Homo sapiens: one gene and its partner. The protein of the gene in region 2 interacts with the protein of the main gene of each other region in a biochemical or structural test. Each region holds a gene or a part of one and is shown on either strand. Other genes may lie near its edges.

The links. The genes of interacting proteins can lie anywhere in the genome.
Region 1: the proteins of CPAMD8 (region 2) and ADCYAP1 interact in a test that uses a peptide from one of them, tested with the Homo sapiens proteins (one study listed by BioGRID).

Annotation. Positions count from the first base shown.
Region 1 is NC_000018.10:907,871-910,605, forward strand, and holds part of ADCYAP1 (pituitary adenylate cyclase-activating polypeptide preproprotein), read left to right. Parts: intron 1-394; coding exon 395-493; intron 494-674; coding exon of another isoform or gene 675-720; exon of another isoform or gene 721-1,562; intron 1,563-1,575; coding exon 1,576-1,765; 3' UTR 1,766-2,735. UniProt on the Homo sapiens protein: PACAP is a neuropeptide involved in diverse array of physiological processes through activating the PACAP subfamily of class B1 G protein-coupled receptors: VIP receptor 1 (VIPR1), VIP receptor 2 (VIPR2), and PACAP type I receptor (ADCYAP1R1).
Region 2 is NC_000019.10:17,016,402-17,020,570, forward strand, and holds part of CPAMD8 (C3 and PZP-like alpha-2-macroglobulin domain-containing protein 8 precursor), read right to left. Parts: intron 3,953-4,169; coding exon 3,930-3,952; intron 1-3,929.

The DNA of each region.
Region 1 (2,735 bases), on a different chromosome or scaffold from region 2:
CCCAGGATTTTTTTTTTTTTCCCGTGAAAGTCCTCAAGCCTGTCCTCTCCCTGGCCCGATCCTATTGCAGCGACAGAAAATCAGCAGCGGGCGGGTCTGTGTGGACCTGAGGGCCGCGTGGGGACCGAGGGGGGCTGTGGCCCAAAGAGTGGCAGTGAGTGGCGTCAAGGAACCCACACTCCGCATCTGCCACTCCTAGAGCCGGGACTAGCTCCCGATCCTAGCAGTTGCTCTCGAGATCATCCCGGGAGTTATTGGCGAGTTCTGGGCCTCTGGAGGTTTCCCTGTCAGCCTCCCCGGCCGCCGAGGGGGCGCGCGCCCAACAAGGGGGTCTCTAGCGGCCACCTGGGGACAGAAACAGTGACCCTGGGCGCGCACTTTGCCTCCCCGTTAGAGATGTCGCCCACGGGATCCTTAACGAGGCCTACCGCAAAGTGCTGGACCAGCTGTCCGCCGGGAAGCACCTGCAGTCGCTCGTGGCCCGGGGCGTGGGGTAAGAGTTTGTGGAAGGATTAACCTGCGCGCGCCGGGGTGGGTGCCTGTGCGGGGCGCGCGGGGCGGGCGGCGGTGGGTGCCCGTGGGGGCCAGGGTGAGTCTGCGCCCCTGGGTCTGGGGTGGGCATCCGCCACGGGTCGCAGTTGGAGATTTTGAAGTGGCACTTTAAATTTGCCCAGAGAGCTCTGGAAGAGGCAAAAAGGGAACGCGAGCCAGGGAGTTTGATCCGTTTTGAATGAAAAGAAAGAGAAACCAAACCAAACCTCTCAGTCATCCAAAACCTTCAGGCTTCCAGGGAGGTTTTGCTATAATTTTCTCTAAGCATGACTGTTTCTGGGGGAGGGGAAAGGGGTGGTTGTATTTACTGAAAATTCAAATCGAAATAATAAATGGCCAAATGTGGACACTTATGGACCCAAACAGTTTTGCTCACGCCAGAGAAACTGAGAGCACAGGGCTTGTGTGAAGCCTATCTCGGCAGAAGGCAACATTCTAATAAAGCCCGTGGGAAAACAGATTACATTTTCGCCATGAATAAGTCATGCAGTGAAAAATATTGCCTACAGCCTGTCGACTTATATTATTATCACGTTTTTCAACTCGGCGTGAGGAGGGAGAGGAGTGTTCATATTTGACTAGGAATTGCAGGATCGATGCAAACTCCAGGGCAGCAGCCAGACTGGCATATGTAGGGCTCTCCGGTTACTTTCTCTGTATGTCGCGGGTGAGAGGAACAGCGAGGACAATTTAGCGCAAACACACGAAGGGTCGGATCTCAAGGGGGCAGCGCTGGGAGAAAGGTTAGGCTTGAAGCGCGCGTCGCCTGCCCGGATCTTATCCCGGGCCCCCTCCGCAGGGTTTGGTGCCAGGAGATCCTGCGTGGGGAGGGGGGCATCGAGGGGCTGCCGTCTCGGCCCTCCCCACGGCTGCTTCCAGGCAGAGGCGGGCGACGCGGTGGGCAGTGCGAGCCCCGGGCCCTCCCCGAAGGCTCCCGCGTGGGGTGGGGCCCGCCTGCTCCCCGCGGCGATTGAACCTGTGTCTCCCGCCCCGCCACCCTCTTCCCGACCCCTTTGCTTGCAGTGGGAGCCTCGGCGGCGGCGCGGGGGACGACGCGGAGCCGCTCTCCAAGCGCCACTCGGACGGGATCTTCACGGACAGCTACAGCCGCTACCGGAAACAAATGGCTGTCAAGAAATACTTGGCGGCCGTCCTAGGGAAGAGGTATAAACAAAGGGTTAAAAACAAAGGACGCCGAATAGCTTATTTGTAGCGATGGGTTACCAGCTACCCTGTGTATACAGCCCTGACGCAATGAAAAGTCGTTTTCCAAACTGACTCAACAGTCATCGCTCGTGTGTTCTATCCAAACATGTATTTATGTAATGAAGTAAAGCCATTAAATGAATATTTTGATAATAATATTGTTTTTCTTTCTACAAAGCACTAGAGAATGCACAGATATACTTTGTGGACCAATTATTGATATATATTATAAATATATATAAAGAATATATATATATATATATATATATATATATATAAAGTATAGAGAGAAGTTCATACAAAGCGTGCACAAGGATTGAAAATTCGCCCGAGCTGTTTATGTTTTTATAAAAATAAATAGAAAAGTAGACAATCATTGTTTTGAATATTACTCCTATTTTTGTAAACTGGAATTAAAAGGATAGTATTTTTATCCATGACAGGCCTGAAGATATTACTACTTACCATTTGCTACTGTACATAAACAATGATGCCCTGCTCCAGGGAGATTTTGAGGTAAAGATATGGAGAATTGCTGAAGGGCATTCTTTCCCAGTGAGTCTCTGGGGCAGGCTGCTTCAATCCCAGCCTAACTCAACTGGGCTCTGTCCCCCTGGTTGGGTGGCAATTCCAATATTTCTGCTTTCTTTGATTCTCCTTTTATGTGTAGTTGTCTCTCTTCAGACTCTCAGCCCAGAAGAAAATTCTCCTGATAAAACAACAGCTCGATCCAAATTGTGCTTCTCCCCAGAATTCACGCCTCTCCCTAGGAGAAGAGTTGAGGAACTGTACAGAAAAGGGCGGCTTCGTTAGACCGCTCTCTTTTCTGTACTTCCTGAGTGGCCAGGGAATCTAATATCCCCAAATTAGGGCAATTGGAACAAAGTGAAGGACATAGAGGTATATTGGAAGAGGCAGAGCCTGAGGTGGTAGGAGGAGGACCCTGGAAATGGACTGGTTTGAGATTGCCCCAGGTC
Region 2 (4,169 bases):
TGGTGGCCAGGGACTGCACATCATCTTAACACCTGCTCCAGGGAAATGGCTTCCTGACTCATAAGAAAGCAGATCTAGGCTGGGTGCAGTGGCTCACACCTGTAATGCCAGCACTTTGGGAGGCTGAGGCAGGTGGATCACTTGAGGTCAGGAGTTTGAGACCACAGTAGCCAACATGGTGAAACCCCACCTCTATTGAAAATACAAAAATTAGCTGGGCATGGTGGGGGCGTCTGCAGTCCCAGCTACTCAGGAGGCTGAGGCAGGAAAATCACTTGAACCCAGGAGGCAGAGGTTGCAGTGAGCTGAGATCGTGCCACTGCACTCCACCCTGGGCGACAGAGCAAGACTCTGTCTCCAAAAAGAGAGAAAGAGAGAGAAAAATCTAATCACACAAAGGAAAGGCAGGAGAGAGAGAGAGGAAGGAAGGGAGGAGGGAGGAAAAGAAATCCAATCACAGGAAGCCAGGAAAGGGAGTTCTAGGGTCTTTTTTTTTTTTTCTTTTTTCCTTATGCTTCTGTAGGCATTGAAGCCCTAGGGCAGGGACCCTCAACCCCTGGGCCACAGACTGGTACCAGTCAATGGCCTGTTAGGAATGGGGCTACACAGCAGGAGGTGAGCAGTGGGTGAGCAAATGAACCTTCATCTGTATTTACAGCCGCTCCCCATCACTCACATTACTGCCTAAGCTCCGCCTCCCATCAGATCAGTGGTGGCATTAGATTCTCATAGGAGTGTGAACCCTATTGTGAACTGTGCATGGGAGGGGTCTAGATTGCATGCTCTTTATGACAATCTAATGCCTGATGATCTGTTACTGTCTCACATCACCCCCAGGTGGGACCATCTAGTTGAAGGAAAACAAGCTCAGGGCTTGCACTGTTTCTTCAGTTATGGTGAGTTATATCATTATTTCGTTATATATTACAGTGTAATAATAATAGAAATAAAGCACACAATAAATGGAATGCCCTTGAATCATCCTGAAACCATTTCTTCTGCTCCCTGGTCCGTGGAAAAAACTGTCTTCCATGAAACTGGTCCCTGGTGCCAAAAAGGTTGGGGACTGCTGCTCTAGGGTTTTGGTTCAGGGTTTCCTGAATGTGGACTTCTGGGGCCACATCCTTCTTTGCTGTAAGGGATCCTGCGCATTGTAAGATGTTGAGTTGCAGCTGTGGCCTCCACCCACCAGATGCCAGTAGCACCTGGCACCGCCCAGCCCCAACCCAGCTGTGACAACCAAAAATGTCTCCAAACTTTACGAAATGTGCCCTGTAGGGCAAAAGCCCCCTTGAGTGAGAACTGCTGCCTTAGAGAAAGGGTTCTATCATCAAATGTAATGGAGGGGCCAGGTGCTGTGGCTCACGCCTGTAATCCCAACACTTTGGGAGGGCTGAGGTGGGCAGATCAACTGAGGTCAGGAGTTTGAGACCAGCCTGGCCAACATGATGAAACCCCATCTCTATTAAAAATACAAAAAAATTAGCTGGGCACGGTGGTGCACACCTGTAATCCCAGCTACTGGGGAGGCTGAGGCAGGAGAATCACTTGAACCCAGGAAGCGGAGGTTGCAGTGAGCCAAGATTGCATCACTGCACTCCAGCCTGGGAGAAAAAGCAAGACTGCTTAAAAAAAAAAAAAAAAAGTAAGGCAGGAAGACCACTGTCCTGCAGCAAATAGGCACTAGTGGTATACCTCATACAAAAGGAACTATCTCAGCCTCCATTCTGATCAATGGAGATGGGCGCCTTATAATTTAAAATAATTCTCAATTTAGCCCATTCATTCGTAGACTCCTTTGAGCATGTGGTAAAAGTTAAGGAATAGCTAACCCCCCAAATGCCGCAATTCCAGGGCTTACATAATATCTGAAATCCAAGGACTCCAGTTTGAAAACCCATGTCATAAAATTATTTACATAGTTTGGTACATATAATAATTTAAAAATAACAATATTCAATGTCTGAGAGGCAGTGGAGAAATCTGATCCCTAATGTACTGCAGGTGGTTCCATGAACAGGTACTGCTGTGTATTCCAGGACACAGCAAGACCCAGTGAGAGGCTTGGGTCCTGCTGGTAATTCTTCAATTTGGCTGTTTAGCCTAAAGAAGGCATCCAGAATGCTAATATGGCTTTACATACAAACATTCTGGCGACTTAAGGATTACAGTATCAAAACACTGAAAACAGCCCAGGCAGGGTGGCTCATGCCTGTAATCTCAGCACTTTGGGAGGCCAAGGTGGGTGGATCACTTGAGGTCAGGAGTTTCAGACCAGTCTGGCCAACATGGTAAAACCCCATCTCTACTAAAAATACACACACACACACACACACACACACACACACACACACAAAATTAGCCAGTCTTGATGGTGCATGCCTGAGGTCCCAGCTACTTGGGAGGCTGGGGCACGAGAATCGCTTGAAACCAGGGTCAGAGGTTGCAGTGAGCTGAGATTGTACCATTGCACTCCAGCCTGGGAGACAGAGTGAGACTTCATCTCAAAAAAAAAAAAGAAAAAAAAAACCACTGAAACAATCTAGAAAAAATCTAGCTGGGGGCTTAGCAAACTGATATTTAAGAGGGGTGCAATAGGATGCTGCTTACAATGAAATGGAAATTCCAATTACAGAGACTTGGAAACATGGAAGTTGTTTACAACAGTGTGATAAGAGGGACTAGGAAACACCACGGTGTTTTGTTTTCTTTTGTTATGTTTTGTTTTGTTTTGTTTTTTGAGACGGAGTTTCACTCTGTTGCCCAGGCTGGAGTGAAGTGGTGAGATCTTGGCTCACTGCAACCTCCGTCCCATGGGTTGAGGCAATTCTCCTGCCTCAGCCCCCGAGTAGCTGGGATTACAGGTGTGCGCCACCATGCCCAGTTAACTTTTGTATTTTTAGTAGAGATGGGGTTTTGCCATGTTGACCAGGCTGGTCTCAAATTCCTGACCTCAGGTGATCCACCCTCCTCGGCCTCCCAGAGTGCTAGGATTACAGGCATGAGCCACTGCGCCCGGCCAGTGGTGTGTGTCCTTTAACTGAAACTATGAAAAGAAAATGTATGTGCATGAACAAGAATGTGTGGAAAACATGAAAAAGTGAAAAGTATGAAAACTGGATTATCGGTGGATTTCTCCTTTTCTAAATTTCATTATTCTCTCATTTTTTTTTAAATAGGGCCTCACTCTGTTGCCCAGGCTGGAGTGCAGTGGTGCGATCATAGTTCACTGCAGCCTCAACCTCCCAGTCTCAAGCGATCCTCCTACCTCAGCCTCCCAAGTGGTTGTGAGAACAGGCGTGAACCACCATGCCTAGCTAATGGATAATTTTTGTATTTTTTTTTTTTGTAGAGACAGGATTTTACCATGTTTTCCAGGCTGGCCTTGAATTCCTGGGCTCCAGAGATCAACCCACCTCAGCCTCGCAAAGTGCTGGGATTACAGATGTGAGCATGGCACCCAGCCTCATTATTCATTTTTTACATCTCTTTTTTAAAAATGATTTTTCTCACAACACATGCAATTTCTCTTATTCCATCCCAATTCAATTCTTTTTTTTTTTTCTTTTCTTTTTTTTTTTTTTTTTGGTGAGACGGAGATTTACTCTTGTTGCCCAGGCTGGAGTGCAATGGTGCAATCTCGGCTCACAGCATCCTCCGCCTCCCAGGTTCAAGCGATTCTCCTGCCTCAGCCTCCCGAGTAGCTGGGATTACAGGCATGTGCCACCACGCCTGGCTAATTTTGTATTTTTAGTAGAGATGCGGTTTCACCATGTTGCCCAGGCTGATCTCGAACTCCTGACCTCAGGTGATCCACCCACCTCGGCCTTCCAAAGTGCTGGGATTACATGTGTGAGCCACCACGCCTGGCCCAATTCAATTCTTTATTTCCAAGGTCAGGTTTATGATTTTAAAAATCAACGGCTTACCTTGAGTTTGATTGTCCCTTTATCTAAAAATGAAAATAAAATGAAAAAAGTTAAATCAAGAGCTGTGTTGCCCTGCCTCCCTGAGCTGCAGCCTCACAAACCACAAACTTTCTTAACCCAAAGGGGTTTCATGTGGACAAACACACCCTGGGTCATGCTGGCCTGGACTGGGCCAGGCTAGGACTGGCAGAAGCCAGAGGTTTCCTCCAAGCTGGCACAAGCTGAAGGCCAGAGGGAATG